Regions from separate parts of the Homo sapiens genome. Here region 2 is linked to region 1. Evidence: fine-mapped expression QTL. Tissue or cell type: whole blood. Region 1 holds a variant in brackets; the other region holds the start of a gene. All regions are shown on one strand. Distances are from middle to middle.

Evidence for each region. PIP is the estimated chance that this variant, and not a neighbour inherited with it, causes the effect.
Region 2: FLCN starts here. The variant in region 1 is fine-mapped to the expression of FLCN in whole blood (TOPMed, PIP above 0.99).

What each region holds. Positions count from the first base shown.
Region 1 is chr17:17,257,708-17,265,901 of GRCh38, forward strand. It overlaps COPS3 (COP9 signalosome subunit 3), which reads right to left. Exons shown (of 12, transcript NM_003653.4): 6 at 7,095-7,274; 7 at 4,259-4,399; 8 at 2,594-2,767. Among named protein-coding and RNA genes, the nearest start is that of COPS3, 19 kb to the right of the region's middle. The variant A/T (reference allele first, on the strand shown) is at 5,033.
Region 2 is chr17:17,233,501-17,241,660 of GRCh38, forward strand. FLCN (folliculin) reads right to left here and starts at 3,668. Exons shown (of 14, transcript NM_144997.7): 1 at 3,412-3,668. RefSeq lists an enhancer at 3,885-3,994 and a silencer at 4,429-4,614.

The sequences.
Region 1 (8,194 bases):
AATGGCGTGAACCCGGGAGGTGGAGCTTGCAGTGAGCCGAGATCGAGCCACTGCACTCCAGCCTGGGAGACAGAGCAAGACTCCGTCTCAAAAAAAAAAAAAAAGAAAAAGAAAAAGAAAAAGAAAAACATCTACTAAAATGTTAACACAAAGTAATATTTCAATGGGAGAGGTGGCAGATTTAACCCATCCCCAGCTGCCTTCCATCCCAGCCATGCCATCACCTACTGATACAGTCTACCTGTTGAGACTTCTTTGGATTTTCTAGTAAGAAAAACTTGGCTAGAAAAATCCTTTGATGTTTCCCCGTTCTTTTCATTTTAGCACTGGGACATCATGCCAAAAATGGAGCAGCCACTATCACAGATGTAACCTTCTGACTAGCTATGTCCTTTAAAGACACGGTTCCTGCCCACCATACCTTATGGTAGCCCTCCCCAGGTCCCTCTGGCAGGCAGTGCTTGTGAGCTCAGTGTACCACAATCCACCACTTCGTGTCAACATACGAAGGACCCAGGACCTTGATGACTTTGTGAGTCACTACCCCAGCCCTGGAAAGACCATTTCGAGTTGAGACTCTTCCTGTTTGATCAAAAAAAAATTTTTTTTGAGACGGAGTCTCACTTTGTCCCCCAGACTGGAGTGCAGTGGTGCAATCTCGGCTCACTGCAACCTCTATCTCCTGGGTTCAAATGATTCTCCTGCCTCAGCCTTCCAAGTAGCTGGGATTACAGGTATGTGCCACCACGCCCAGCTAATTTTTGAAACCGTTATTTAATTTTCATTTGCTATTTTGCAATTTAACATCTTTTGTAACATGTACTATCTTTTATGTTTGTTAGCATTTGGGTTCTTTTATCTAAACTTCAATTACTAGTCACAAACAGAGTTTGTGTTTTTAATGGCAGCTGTTTTTTAATGGCTACCTCTTGATGGCAAAAGACAGAAATTTACTTAGAATGGTTCTGTTGGCACTTGGGCCAAAAAGAAAATTTTATGGAGAGAATTAGGCTGCTTGTTATTTAAGTCTCTTAGATCCTGGTCTTTTAAACCTGTAGGTCAAGCTGGTTTTTCTGGCTCACAAGTTACACTGGTTTTGATCTTTGACTTGATTTCTCTTTCACGTTCTTCATTTTTCTCTCATAAAAATTAACTTTTTACAAATTCACTACTGATTTCCTTCTATTCTAGAAGCTATGGCTAGTCTTTCTAGAGTATTTGGAAGGATTCTTTTTCTTGCCCATTGACCCTCTCCTCACCTTCCTTCCTCTTCTCCTTAGGATCCTTTATCCTTGTATGAGGTCTGCCCACCTCAACGGCCACCCCGACCCACCTCTCTTCTCTAGCTTCTCCATTGGGCTAGGGGAAGTCACCTCTCCCCTAAGTCCTCACGTAGCCAAATCCATCAGCCTTTTCCATTGCTGGGTAGCCTAGCAAAAAAACAGCTACCCTATTCTGGTTCCTTGGCTCGTCCCCAACCATGCATCACCATGGCTGACACAAGGCAAAGGATGTGCACAGGAACAGATGCACTGTGTTCTCAGCAGCTGTGAACTATGCATATCTGGCCAGACTTCCCAAGAGAAAAAAGCAATCCTCTATTTGTTGAGCTACAGGATTCCTGTAACTTGCAGCCTATACCTTCCTAAAACACAAAAAATTTCATTTTTCATTATTTTTCTGTACTGTTTGAACGTTTGACATTAAGCATATTTTCTATAGTCAAAACCTAGCAGGTTATTTTCATCTTGACAATAAAAATTATAGAATTGGCTTACATCCTAGAAGAAAATAAAAATTATATAATTGGCTTACATCCTAGAAGTCAATTGCACAAAGTTTGTACAACCCTGGCCTAAATGGTAATGTCCGAGTAGTACTATGTTCACATAAGGTGTTCTCATTGGCTGGGTGCGGTGGTTCATGTCTGTAATCCCAGCAGTTTGGGAGGCCAAGGCAGGTGGATCACATGAGCACAGGGGTTCGAGACCGCCTGGCCAACATAGCAAAACCTTGTCTATACAAAAAATACAAAAATTAGCTGGGCGTGGTGGCTCACACCTGTGGTCCCAGCTGCTTGGGAGGCTGAGGTGGGCAGATCACTTGAGCTCAGGAGGCAGAGGGTGCAATGAGCCGAAATCACGCCACTGCACACCAGCCTGGGCAACAGAGCAAGGCACTGTGTCAAGAGAGAAAAAAAAAAAATGTTCTAATAGAGATCAGCACAGACAGAACAGACAGGTTGCAAGGCTGGTGACAGTGCACTGAGGTCTGCATCATTAGCATCCCTCATCTGCCCTGCTGGAGCTGCTGACCTCTCTGAGGCTGCCTTTCACTGTCTCCCAATGTAGCCTTGTCTCCTACCTTTCTTCCTCTTCACCTGCTCCAAATACCCTGCTCTAGCCCTGAAAAGACCAAAGGTATACATCAAATTCTTTCTAAGAAGCCAATCACAAGAGAGTTCTCTCTCAGCACAGAAATCCTGCCATGCTTTATCCCTGTACCTGCTTCCTCAGCTCTGAAAAGGGAGAGAAAGGGAAACATGGCCCCCAGGGGGTCAGGAGCTGCCCTGTGAAGGTGGCACTTTCCTCACCTTTGTTAGCCTCTGAATATTCTTCTTATAAAGAGATGACAAGCATTGCTTCACCAGCCCCATGTTGTTATCGCGAGTGAAGGTTTCACTGTGCTTATTCACCAGGTTTCGGAGTTCTGAGGGGTTGTTGGTTGAATACACTTGTGCTAACTCGTGGTATGCATTGCTAAGAGGCTAAAGATGCAAAGGAGGGAAAAAATTCAGATTAAAACTTCAGAAGAGGCCAGGTGTGGGGACTCACGCCTGTAATCTCAACACTTTGGGAGGCCGAGGCGGACAAATCACCTGGGGTCAGGGGTTAAACACCAGCCTGACCAACATGAAGAAACCCCGTCTCTACTAAAAATACAAAATTAACTGAGCGTGATAGCACATGCCTGTAATCCCAGCTACTTGGGAGGCTGAGGCAAGAGAATCGCTTGAACCCAGGAGGTGGAGGTTGCAGTGAGCCAAGATCGTGCCACTGCACTCCAGCCTGGGCAACAAAGCAAAACTCCGTCTCAAAAAAAAAAAAAAAACCAAAAACAAACAAACAAACTTCAGAAGACTCAAATGTGTATAGGAAGCAAAAACACACTTACATACTATTTTTTAAGCAAGTATATCCCATATTGTCAGGTAACTACACACTGTTACCCTACAAATTATAATTTACCCAAAGCAAATGCCTGGTTTTTAAGACCAGGGATAGAAAGTCACTATGGAGTAATTCATTTTCCACAAAATTTTGTACTACAGACCAAGTAATAACACAGCAGGTGAAAACCCACTGAATTTAGTGAAGGCACACGTCTTCATCAGTGCTTCTGTTTTTCTACTGATAAATCATATAGAGAAGAAAGGAGTCAAAACATTCATCATTCCCAACTCTCCCTCTCTCTTTCTCACACCTCACCAGATGCAACAGGACAATCTGCTACTTCTGCTAGCAAGAAGGAAGACAGGGCCGGGCATGGTGGCTCACGCCTGTAATCCCAGCACTTTGGGAGGCCGAGGCGGGTGGATCACGAGGTCAAGAGATCGAGACAATCCTGGCTAACACGGTGAAACCACATCTCCACTAAAAATACAAAAAATTAGCTGGGCATGGTGGCACACACCTGTAGTCCCAGCTACTCGGGAGGCTAAGGCAGGAGAATCGCTTGAACCCGGGAGGCAGAGGTTGCAGTGAGCTGAGATCACGCCACTGCACTCCAGCTTTGGTGACAAGAGCAAAACTCCATTTCTAAATAAATAAATAAATAAATAAAATGAAAAATATAACAAAACAAAATAAAGGCCAGGCTCAGTGGCACACACCTGTAATCCCAGCACTCTGGGAGGCAGACGCAGAAGGACTGCTTGAGGCCAGGAGTTCAACACCAACCTGGCCAACATAGCGAGACTCTGTCTCTAGGGAAAAAAAAAAAAATCAACTGTTATAGGAGCTTAAACATCTATAGCTGTAAGTATCTAGAGCACAAGTTTGAAAACGGGTTCCTGAGAAATATTCCATTCCAATCAGGTAATGAGAATGTGTAGCAGACATTCAATAAATGTCTGCTCACCTGAAGCTGCTAGGAGAGCTAAATCAGTATAAAACGAAGTTACAGAACTGTATCATTGCAATTTCTTTATATACTCAACATGCTCACGTAAGAAATCAGTTTTATGTAAAAAACTTACCTTAATGAATCTACCCACAATTTGAGATGTATATTTTGGTAGCTGTTGTACTTTGCCAAGTAATATCAAAGACACTAAAATATACTTTTTATATGATTCCAACATGATATGACTGACCGCCATGGCAGGAGTAGTTATAGCCTAGGCAAGAGAAGAATGCTTGCTGTAAAGAGAACATACCACAGTAGCAAACAACAATCAACCACATGTATCACATTAATTATAAGTCAATAATACTTTTTAAATGTCCCATTATTTTTATAACAGCCTTATTGAGATAGAATTCATTTTATTTTTATTTATGCATTTTTTAGAGACAGGGTCTCGCTCTGTCATCTAGGCTGGAGCGCAGTGATGTAATTATGGCTCACTGTACCCTCAAACTCCTTGGGTTCAAGCAATCTTCCTGCCTCAGCCTCCTGAGTACCTGGGACTATAGGAGTGGGCCACCATGCTTGACTAATTTTAAAATTTTTTGTAGAGGCCAGGCGCGGTGGCTTATGCCTGTAATCCCAGCACTTTGAGAGGCCGAGGTGGGTGGATCACGAGGTCAGGGGATCGAGACCAACCTGGCTAACACAGTGAAACCCCATCTCTACTAAAAATACAAAAAAATTAGCCGGGTGTGGTGGTGGGCGCCTGTAGTCCCAGCTACTTGGGAGGCTGAGGCAGGAGAAGGGTGTGAACCCAGGAGGCGGAGCTTGCAGTGAGCTGAGATTGCGCCACTGCACTCCAGCCTGGGCGACAAAGCGAGACTCCGTCTCAAAAAAAAAA[A/T]TATTTTTTGTAGAAATGGAGTCTCACTATGTTGCTCAGGCTGACTCCTATGTTGCTCACTATGTTGTTCAGTCTTGTACTCCTGAGCTCAAGCAATGCTCCCACTTCAGCATCCCAAAGTGCTAGGATTACTGGCATGAGCCACCACGCCTGGCCACTTTCTTGTCTTTTTATTTTTGAGGACGAGTCTCTGTTACCCAGGCTGGAGTGCAGTGGCGCAATCCCGGCTCACTGCAACCTCCATCTCCTGGTTCAAGAGATTCTCCTGGCTGGGCGTGTTGGCTCATGCCTGTAATCCCAGCAATTTGGGAGGCCGAGGCGGGCGGATCACGAGGTCAGGAGATCAAGACCATCCTGGCTAACATGGTGAAACCCCATCTCTACTAAAAATACAAAAAATTAGCCAGGTGTGGTGGCAGGCACCTGTAGTTCCAGCTAGTCACGAGGCTGAGGCAGGAGAATGGTGTGAACCCGGGAGGCGGAGCTTGCGGTGAGCCGAGATCGTGCCACTGCACTCCAGCCTGGGCGACAGAGCAAGACTCCATTTCAAAAAAAAAAAAAAGAGATTCTCCTGCCTCAGTCTCCTGAGTAGCTGGGATTACAGGCGCCTGCTGCCAGGCCCAGCTAATTTTTGCATTTTTAGTAGAGACATTTTCACCATGTTGGCCAGGCTGGTCTTGAATTCCTGACCTCAGGCGATTTGCCTGCCTCGGCCTCCCAGTGTGCTGGGATTACAGGTGTGAGCCACCTCACCCAGCCTCTTGCCTTTTCTTTTTTTTTTTTTTTTTTTTGAGATGGAGTTTTGCTCTTGTTGCCCAAGCTGGAGTGCAATGGCACGATCTCGGCTCACTGCAACCTCCGCCTCTTGGGTTCAAGCAATTCTCCTGCTTCAGCCTCCTGAGTAGCTAGGATTACAGGCATGCACCACCATGCCCAGCTAAATTTTGTATTTTTAGTAGAGATGGGGTTTCTCCACGTTGGTCAGGCTGGTCTCGAACTCCCGACCTCAGGTGATCCGCCGGCCTCGGCCTCCCAAAGTGCTGGGATTACAGGCGTGAGCCACCGCACTCGGACGCCTCTTACCTTTTTAACACCCACTCATCCTGATATTTCAAGATCAAGTTTGCTCATGAGTTAACTATATTTGGCTACAGCAATGATAATGCATCCAGTGGCTACGAAGTGCATTTTTATAATTTTCCGAATGCGTAGTCTTAAAGAGAAGCCACCTTGAAGATTTAACCTGACTAGACACGTGCTTTAATGACACCATCTCTGCCTACTGGCACCTTATGGTGGCCCTCCTCAGGTCCCCTCAACAGGACACATCAACCACTCATTGTGGTATGGTTCAGAGCCACGGATGTGTGTACATGTATGCATGTGTATTATGTATTAGAATTCCAACTAAACCGAGCTCTCTGAAGGTTTTAAATATCCTTTATTACTTAATACATGCTATGAACTAAATAGGAACTTACGAACATCTAACTAATTTACCTTAAGTAAAGTGGTTTATTAATCAATATTGTGTATCTCTTTTTCAGAGTCTGAGTAAACCTCCAGAATATTCTACCAAATTGTGTACTATGTTTCATTACACAGACACAGAAAGGGTGGGAGGGACTTTTACTGTGTACTCCTTTCTACCCTTTAAATTTTGAATCAAGAGAATGTTTCACTGATTAAATAAAACTTAACAAAATACCACACATGGTTTTAGAATAAGACACAACCAAGATCACTCAGTTCAATCTCTTCCTTATATGCAAAGGAAGCTATAAAGGTCAAGAGATGTCATAACTTATTCCAAATCAGATAAGGTATAAGTGCAAGCCTAGATTAGAACCCCCAGACAAGTGCTCTTCTATGCACTGGCGCTGCTCCTCAACTTAGGGATCAGGTTACCACTATTTACATGATCACAGAGAAGTAGTCTCTGAAAGGACCAACACCTGAAACGGAGGCCCTGGGATCAGACCACTCTAGCCACAAACCTATGGGAGCACTTTTTTGATCACACAAGTTCAGAACAACCTCAGCTAATTTTTAGAGAGATTACCTGTTCATAAAAGTAGAGAGCTCTTTCAAAGTTCTTCAGCCCAGTATAGATCATCCCTCCATAATAATAGTAACATAAAAAGTGTTTTGCATCATAGGCTCCATTCTCTTTACAGATATCCATCATATCCACGTCAAGATATGGAAGGGCAGGCTTAAAGCATTTTGCTAGCAAACAAAGCTGTGAACAAATTGATATTAAATCATCACTTTAATTTTACTTAGGCAGGTATTAGCAGAAGGAGAAAATTCATTGATTCCAGAAATTTCCAAATAATGTAATTGTGTTTTACATTTTATTGACTAAAATTATCTAAATGTCAACACATTTCATGTATCTGCTATCTGAAATGCTTAGGACCACAAGTGTTTCAAATTTTGGAATATTTGCAGAATACATACCAGTTAAGCATCCCTAATCTGAAAACCTGAAATCCAATTGCTCCAATGAGCACTTTGAGTGCCAAGTTGGCATTCTAAAGATTTCAGATTTTGGAGCATTTTGGGTTTCAAATTTTTGGATTGGGTTTCAAATTTTCAGATTAGGAATAGTCAACCTGTACTCCATTTTCTTAGCCATTCAGAAAAAAACAGCATTACCTTTTTTTTTTTTTTTGAAATGGAGTCTCACTCTGTCACACAGGCTGGAGTGCAGTGGCGTCATCTCAGCTCACTGCAACCTCCACCTCCCGGGTTCAAGTGATTCTCCTGCATTAGCCTCCCGAGTAGCTGGGATTACAGGCGTGCACCACCACACCCAGCTAATTTTTGTATTTTTAGTAGAGACAGGGTTTCACCACATTAGCCAGGCTGGTCTCGAACTCCTGACCTCAAGTGATCCGTCCACCTTGGCCTCCGAATGTGCTAGGATTACAGGCGTGAGCCACCTCACCTGGGGGAGCATTTCTTTATAAAAAGCTAAACAGCTATAAGGCCAAGCATGCTATAGATGATTGAGAATAGAGAACTCTACAGACAAGACTCACTTATCTCTTAACCTATCCCTACCCATCTGATTAGAGGGAAAAAGAGTGTGTCCTCTTTCTTTACTGAACTAGTGGAATAGAAAGAGACCAGCATGGTGTGATACAAGTAGAAGTG
Region 2 (8,160 bases), 24 kb before region 1:
AGGCAGGAGAATGGCGTGAACCTGAGACGCAGAGCTTGCAGTGAGCCAAGATCACGGCACTGCACTCCAGCCTGGGCGACACAGCAAGACTCCATCTCAAAAAAAAAAAAAAAAAAAAAAATTAGCCGGGCATGCCTCTAGTCCAAGTTACTTGGGGGACTAAGTTGGGAGGTCACTTCAGCCTGGGAGGTCAAGGCTGCAAGTTCCCATCTTTCCTTTTTTTTTTTTTTTTTTTTTTTTGAGACCAAGTTTCACTCTTGTCACCCAGGCTGGAGTGCAATGGCGTGATCTCAGCTCACTGCAACCTCTGCCTCCCAGGTTTAAGTGATTCTCCTGCCTCAGCCTCCTGAGTAGCTGGGATTACAGGTGTCTGCCACCACACCTGGCTAATTTTTGTATTTTAGTAGAGACAGAGTTTCACCATGTTGGCCAGGCTGGTCTCGAACTCCCGACCTCAGGTGATCCACCTACCTCAGCCTCCCTAAGTGCTAGGATTACAGGCATGAGCCACTGCATCCAGCCAAGTCCCCATCTTTCTTACTCTTGGTTATAAGGGGGTGCTCTGGCAGCATCTACATCACACCAACTTACTTTTCAGGCCATAGGCCTGGCAGTTTCCTTCTCAAGCAGGAGAGGGAAACCAGAGGCAACGCTGACAAGCCACTTCCCAGCACCCAGAGCCAACATGGGCTACACTGTTTTGTTTTTTTTTGGTTTGTTTTTTTTTTTGCGGAAGGGTCTCATTCTGTTGCCCAGGCTGGAGTGCAGTGCAGCAATCTCGGATCACTGCCACCTCCGCCTCCCAGGTTCAAGCAATTCTCCTGCCTCAGCTTCCCGAGTAGCTGGAATTATGGCCGTGCGCCACCAGGACCAGCCAACTTTTGTATTTTTAGTAGAGATGGGGTTTCGCCATGTTAGCCAGGCTGGTCTTGAACTCCTGACCTCAGGTGATTCTCCCGCCTCCTCGGCCTCCCAAAGTGCTGGGATTACAGGCATAAGCCACCATGTCTGGCCAAAACATGGGCTACTCTTATTCGTTTTTCCTTTTAATGAAAAGCACTCGCTGGGTGCAGTGGCTTAAGCCTGTAATCCCAGCACTTTGGGAGGCCAAGGAGGGCAGATCACCTAAGGTCAGGAGTTTGTGACCAGCCAGGCTAACATGGTGAAACCCTGTCTCTACTAAAAATAGAAAAATTGCCGGGTGTGGTGGCTCATGCTTGTAATCCCAGCACTTTGGGAGGCCGAGGCAGGCGGACCACGAGGTCAGGAGTTCGAGACCAGCCTGGCCAACATATTGAAACCCCATCTCTACTAAAAATACAAAAATTAGGCTGGGTGCGGTGGCTCACGCCTGTAATCCCAGCACTTTGGGAGGCCGAGGTGGGCAGATCACGAGGTCAGGAGATTGAGACCATCCTGGCTAACACAGTGAAACCCCGTCTCTACTAAAAAATACAAAAAATTAGCTGGGCATGGTGGCGGGGGCCTGTAGCCCCAGCTACTGGGGAGGCCGAGGGAGGAGAATGGCGTGAACCCAGGAGGCACAGCTTGCAGTGAGCTGATCGCACCACTGCACTCCAGCCTGGGCCACAGAGCAAGACTCCATTTCAAAAAAAAAAAAAAAAAAAAAGCCAGGCATGGTGGTGGTGCATGCCTGTAATCCCAGCTACTGGGGAATCTGAGGCAGGAGAATTGCTTGAACCTGGGAGACGGAGGTTGCAGTGAGCTGAGATCGCACCATTGCACTCCAGCCTGGGCAATAAGAGTAAAACTCCATTTCAAAAAATACAAAATACGAAAATTAGCCAGGCCTGGTGGCACGTGCCTGTAGTGCCAGCTACTCAGGAGGCTGAGGCAGGAGAATCGTTTGAGCCTGGAAGCGGAGGTGGCAGTGAGCCGAGATCGCATCACTGCACTCCAGCCTGGGCGACAGAATGAGATTCTGTCTCCAAAAAAGAAAGAAAGAAAGAAAGAAAGCAAAAGCACTTGTCAGACGAGAGCTCTGACTCTGACTCCATGGATCATGTGCACCAGAGGCCCAGGCAGCCCCTGAAAGAGAGGGAGGTGCCCTACAGAGCACTTAGCTTTGCGGTCACCGGAGCCTGCCCTCACCAGCCAGGTGACACCAAGTGTTACTAGACCTCTCTGAATACCACCCAAAAGCTGAGAAACAGAGGCCTCTCAGAATTCGCATTACACATGGAATCAGAATTCTGGGCAGCGTGAGGTCATTCTTCACTCACTGTTCAATTCCAATCTCTACCAGGTGTTTGCTGAAGAAAACAAACTGGTTTGAGTGTGTCTCACGAGTCTGTTTCCAACAAGCTTTCCAGAACCCACATAGGAAGCCGAAATGCCCTGGCTGACAGTCTCTTCATCAACATATCCAAAGACAGTATTCAAATTCCCTGATGTGGTAGAGTGTCTGTTCATGTCCCCCTCCCACAATGGCTGAGTCCCAGACCTGGACAGTGACCTCACCACCACCCGTGGTGCGCCCTGGCCCTATTTCAACCCTACTTCCTATGGTGTTCTCATAGCACCGTGGAGAATTAAAGAGGCCACTAAGTAAGGGCACTCTAAATAAACAAAGCACTATAACGGATCTTAACCAGCAGTGGACACACAGCTTCTATAACTAGTCTCCCACTGGGGAGCCTCATTAAGTTAGCAGCTGGGATCCCAACAAGCCCAGGGTGAAAAGTTCTGCAGGGGATGACTGCCAGTTCAGATCCACTCTCACTGTGGCTCTATTTCCACCGTTTCCCTGGATTTCCATTCACAGAGCTCCCTGACATAGGACACTAGAAGGGCAAACGCAGTGTCACCTGCCACTATTACTCAATTACTTGATGACCACGGTGATAATCTGGCACTAAACTGGCTGTGGCCAAAGGCTAGAGAGCCAGAACCTACTTCCAGCAAGCTCCTCCTTGCCCTGTGTCCCCACTTGAAGAGACTGCTAGTGACCACACCTTGGACTTCAATCCACAAGCCAATCCATTCTTTCCAGGAGACAAGGACGCGACTGACAGTACTCTCAACTGGAGAGAAGCGCGGTCTTCCACCCTCCCTGGAGGACACGGTGCTACCCTATTAGCGCATCAGAGGACCCTCCTGAACGCCAAACTGGGAGAAGAGGATGACACACACCCTCTCCTCCAAACAGAGCGAAGACAAAACCTGGGAGAAGGGAAGGCAAACAGTCCCGTTTCATGGCAACATCAAATGAGATCACAGTCCTCATCCCCATAGACTTGGTTAATGGGCGTGCCCCCAACCTATCTTCAAATCTCAGGGTCTCGGCGACGCCCTGGACTCTGGCCCTAAACCCTCCCCCATTACTCGTCCACCTGGGACCAACGAAAACTCGGACATGCCCCTCCGCCAACCCCTCAGACCCCCGCCTACCTGCTCCCCAAATCGAGGCCCGCGGGACACCTGGACTCGGCAGCCGGGGTCCCGCTCTGGGTCCCAGCCCCGCCCCTGACTGCGCTGGGTAGGTGGTCGCTGCGGGACCCGGACCGGCGGAATCACACCCAGAGCCCCCAAGCCCACGGCAGGGATGTCACCCGGGGTGGCGAGGCTCTCAAGCCCGGGTTCAGGCTCTCAGGGGAGCTGGCAGAACCAGGAGCGACCACACTCACTCGCGGTCCCGCAGCCCCGCCGACACCCAGGCGCGTGACTCCCTGAGCCGTACCACCACCCAACACTGCGGTGGGGGTGCGGGAGCCGTCCGAGCGCGTCCTGCACCGCGAGGAGAGCCGGGCCTCCCTAGCTCTCGCAAGCCCAGGAACACAGTCCGAGTCCTACAACTCCGAGGTCTGACTGGGAAGCAGGGGCCGCTGCCCGACAATTACCCTTTTCCACCGCCCCTATTCCGGTGCCCCCCTCTGGGAAGTTCCGAATGGTTCAGACCGCACCAGCTGGGGATGCTGGGGGAAACCATTTCATTAAGCGCGGGAGTATGCTGAAACTTAAAAATCATTTTAAAAAGAGATTTGAGGGTAAATATAGCCAACCTAAGGCTTCCTGTCCACATAAAAGAGAAAAATAAAGAAAAAACGTTATAAGAGGTTGGCAGGCTTTTTTTTTTTGCTTCACCAATGGTTTTTATTAAATTGCTGATGGAACCCGTCCTCTCCCTACATTGAGAGTATGGAAGGTGCGGGAGACGGCCGTCACGTGACGCGGAGAAGGCGCGGCGCCCGTGGGAGGTTGGTTGCAGAACTCGGAACCGCTGTGCGCGCGCATGTGTGGGATTCGGTCTTCCTCCCTCAGTGGGTCTTTTTTAAAAATGTGAAAATCAGTTTTTGAATAATATTCTTTTTTTGAGACAGAGTTTCGCTTTCGCTCTTGTTGCCCAGGCTGGAGTCCAGTGGCGCGACCTCGCCTTACTGCAACCTCCGCTTCCCGGGTTCAAGCGATTCTCCTGCCTCAGCCTCCCGAGTAGCTGGGGACTACAGGCGTCCGCCACCACGCCTGGCTAATTTTTTGTATTTTTGCAGAGACGGGTTTTCACCCTTTTGGCCAGGCTGGTCTTGAACTCCTAACCTCAGGTGATCCACCAGCCTCGGCCTCCCAAAGTGCTGGGATTACAGGCGTGAGCCACCGCGCCCGGCCTGAATAATATTTTTTAAAACTAGAGCGCCCATTACTAAATTTAGCTACTTAGAAGTTAATTGTAAAGCCATTAGTTTGTGATGTAGTGTGGGTCCTTCCAGTGAAGACCGGAGAGAGATGGGAATCAGAGCCTGACCCGCCTGTGCGCGCTGCCCCCTGAGGTGTGGCTGCCCCCTGAGGTGTGGCCGCCCCGGAGCCTTCCGCCGCGGCCGAGGCTATGGTTGCCGCAGAGTCTCCAGAATGTGCTCACCAGGAATAGAATAGAAAAGTGGGTGGTTGTGTTTTTGAAATCAGAAGTCACTTATTTTTTTCTCTTTAAATTTCCATGTTCTGGTCGGGCGCGGTGGCTCACGCCTATAATATCCCAACACTTTGGGAGGCCGAGGTGGGCGGATTACGAGGTAAAGAGATGGAGACCATCCTGGCCAACAGGTGAAACCCCCTCTCTACTAAGAATACAAAAAAAATTAGCTGGGCGTGGTGGCACACGCCTGTAGTCCCAGCTACTCTGGTGGCTGAGGCAGGAGAATTGCTTAAACCCGGGAGGCAGAGGTTGCAGTGAGCTGAGATCGTGCCACTGCACTCCAGCCTGGCACAGAGCGAGACTCCATCTAAAAAAAAAAAAAAAAATCCATGGTCTGTTGAAAACGGGACACGAGAAAAGAACGAAAGTGCAGCTTGTGTTTTCTGCCGTCTTATAGTGGCTTGGTAAAGATTAAGGAATATGGGGTGGCGTTACGAGGTTAGGCATTGCCTTTATGTGTTTAATTATTCTTATCAAGCGAATTCCTCTTGCTGTTGGACAGCGCAAACTTAATTTCTGAGGAGGTAGTAAGTTACAGGGTGATTTTATTTTATTTTATTTTAGAGACGGAGTCTTGCTATGTCTCCCAGGCTGGAGTGCAGTGGCGCGATCTCGGCTCACTGCTACCTCCACCTCCCGGGTTCAAGTTCTTGAAACTAATGTTTGTTAATGAGATTTTTAAGTCAAGAACAAGGTTTTTTTCACCTTGTAACTTTAATTCCAGGAATTACCTTTTTCAGTTTGTTAGTGGAGTTCACCACCTTGCTCAGATTATCCTTATTTCCATGGTGATAGGCTAATGGCGGAAGGTTATTCAACTAGTGTATTTTCAGTAAAAGTCAATGTGCATTTACCACACCTGGGCTCAATTTAGGCCATTAACATCTTTCCCAACACCACTGGCTTCAGCCACCTACCTCTTTTGGAGGTACTTTCTTAAATAAACCTATAAATCTTTAAAAAAAAAATTAACAACTGCCAAATCTTTGCCTCAGTGAATTGTACCAAAGGTTATTTAAATTGGGCTCTCATGGGGTATAAAAACTTTCAAGGTCATGCAACAAAAGGGACATCTTAGAAGTCGGAAAATGTGCCCATTCTCATGGGAAAGATAATTGAAACTCAGCAGTAATGTTCAGAAAGCACAGATACCAATAATGTTCAACAATTCACAACCAAATGAAATGCAATGCTAATCTCAAAGCTTCTATCCCATAATGGAAATTGTATGAAATGATTCCAGAAGCTCTGGATATGTTACTGCCTGGCATGCATACAATCCAGAATGTGTTTTTTCCACCACTGAAACAGGCTCAATCAGAATTAAGATTTTTTTCCACCACTGAAATAGGCTCAATCAGAATTAAGGTTTTTTGATGCTTTTCTGCCTTCTTACTACTGCTAAACCAAGAGGCTTCATTATAGCTGAGTATCCAAACTGATCAATCACTTCCAAGGCATCAGTTGCCAGGACCATAGAGCCAAGTGGCAGGGAAAAGTCACATCTTATTCAGAAATTTGTTTTAGAGTTTTTTATATGTACCCTTAGCCACAGGGGCTCTGATGTAGCTGTAGGATACAGCTGGGCTTTATCTTTCAGTCAAACCACATGTCAATGACTCTTAGTTTCCAGTTTCAGGAAGAAGGGGTGTATTTCATTTGTAAGCATTTCAATTTAATATTTTTAATCACATCTCATATTTTCAAGTTACTATAATTGATTCCCTGTTATAAAAATAATGATCTAAGTTTTTGTTTCTTCCAGCAACTGAGAAAACATTCCGTTTTTAGATGTTTTGAACAGTTTAGGAGTCTGGCCAGCTGCTGAAAGGCAGCAAGCAATGAGTAACATTTCAGAAGGTGAGATAAATGCACAATTTCTTTTTTTTTTTTTTTTGAGACGGAGTCTCACTCTGTCGCTAGGTTGGAGTACAGTGGCGTGATCTTCGCTCACTGCAACCTCCCCCTCCCGGGTTCAAGCACTTCTCCTGCCTCAGCCTCCCGAGTAACTGGGACTACAGGCGCATGCCACCAGGCTCAGCTAATTTTTGTATTTTTAGTAGAGACGGGTTTCACCATGTTGGTCAGGCTGGTCTCGAACTGCTGACCTTGTGATCTGCCCTCCCAAAGTGCTGGGATAACAGGCGTGAGCCACTGCACCCAGCCCATGCACAATTTCTTTCTTTCTCTTTTTTTTTTTTTTTTTCTTTTTTGAGACGGAGTCTTGCTCTGTTGCCCAGGCTGGAGTGCAGTGGCGCCATGTCCGCTCACTGAAAGCTCTGCCCCCAGGGTTCATGCCATTCTCCTGCCTCAGTCTCCTGAGTAGCTGGGACTACAGGCGTCTGCCACCAGGCCCAGCTAATTTTTTGTATCTTTAGTAGAGACGGGGTTTCACTGTGTTAGCCAGGATGCTCTCGATCTGCCTGCCTCGGCCTCCCAAAGTGCTGGGATTACAGGCGTGAGCCACTGCGCCCAGCCTAGCCCATGCACAGTTTCTAAGTTCAGGTTTTAGGTAATTAGACAATCAACTCTGCACATAAGGCATCCAGTCAGTTGCGAGGTATGAGTTATTAGTGGTTCAATAAAGGCCATTAGGATTAATTTAATATTTCTTACCATAGCAATTTCTGTAAGCTTTTAAAAATTAACCTCTCTCCACTAATTAGAATTCATCTGCTATGCCTTTTGTGTTTTAATCTACTACTAGGTGCCTATTAAATACCATGTGTTGACATTTTCGTCTAACAATCAACTATAGAGCCAGCCTATGGATTCAGACTTATTAAATGCTTTTTGCAATTAAAGTTCTCTGATTTCAGCCTTTGATGTTAGGAAAGGATACAGATAGGATTTTCTTTGTTCACTATCATTAAGTAATTCAGTTACTTAAAAAGATAGCCATCACATTTTCTTATTCACAGATACCTGATTTACCTAGTCATTTATTTTCTCTGGCCCCTTTGCAACTGCTCAGACTTAGGTCCAAATAACATAACCTTCCACAAAGTGGGTACCAATTCAGGTTGGAACCCAGAAACTTAGGACTTACAAACCCAAAACTTCATATTTTGTTTTGTGTTTTTTGTTTTGTTTTTTTTGAGATGGAGTCTCGCTCTGTCACCCAGGCTGGAGCGCAGTGGTGCGATCTTGGCTCACTGCAAGCTCCGCCTCCGGGATTCAAGTGATTCTTCTGCCTCAGCCTCCCGAGTAGCTGGGACTACAGGCAGGTGCCA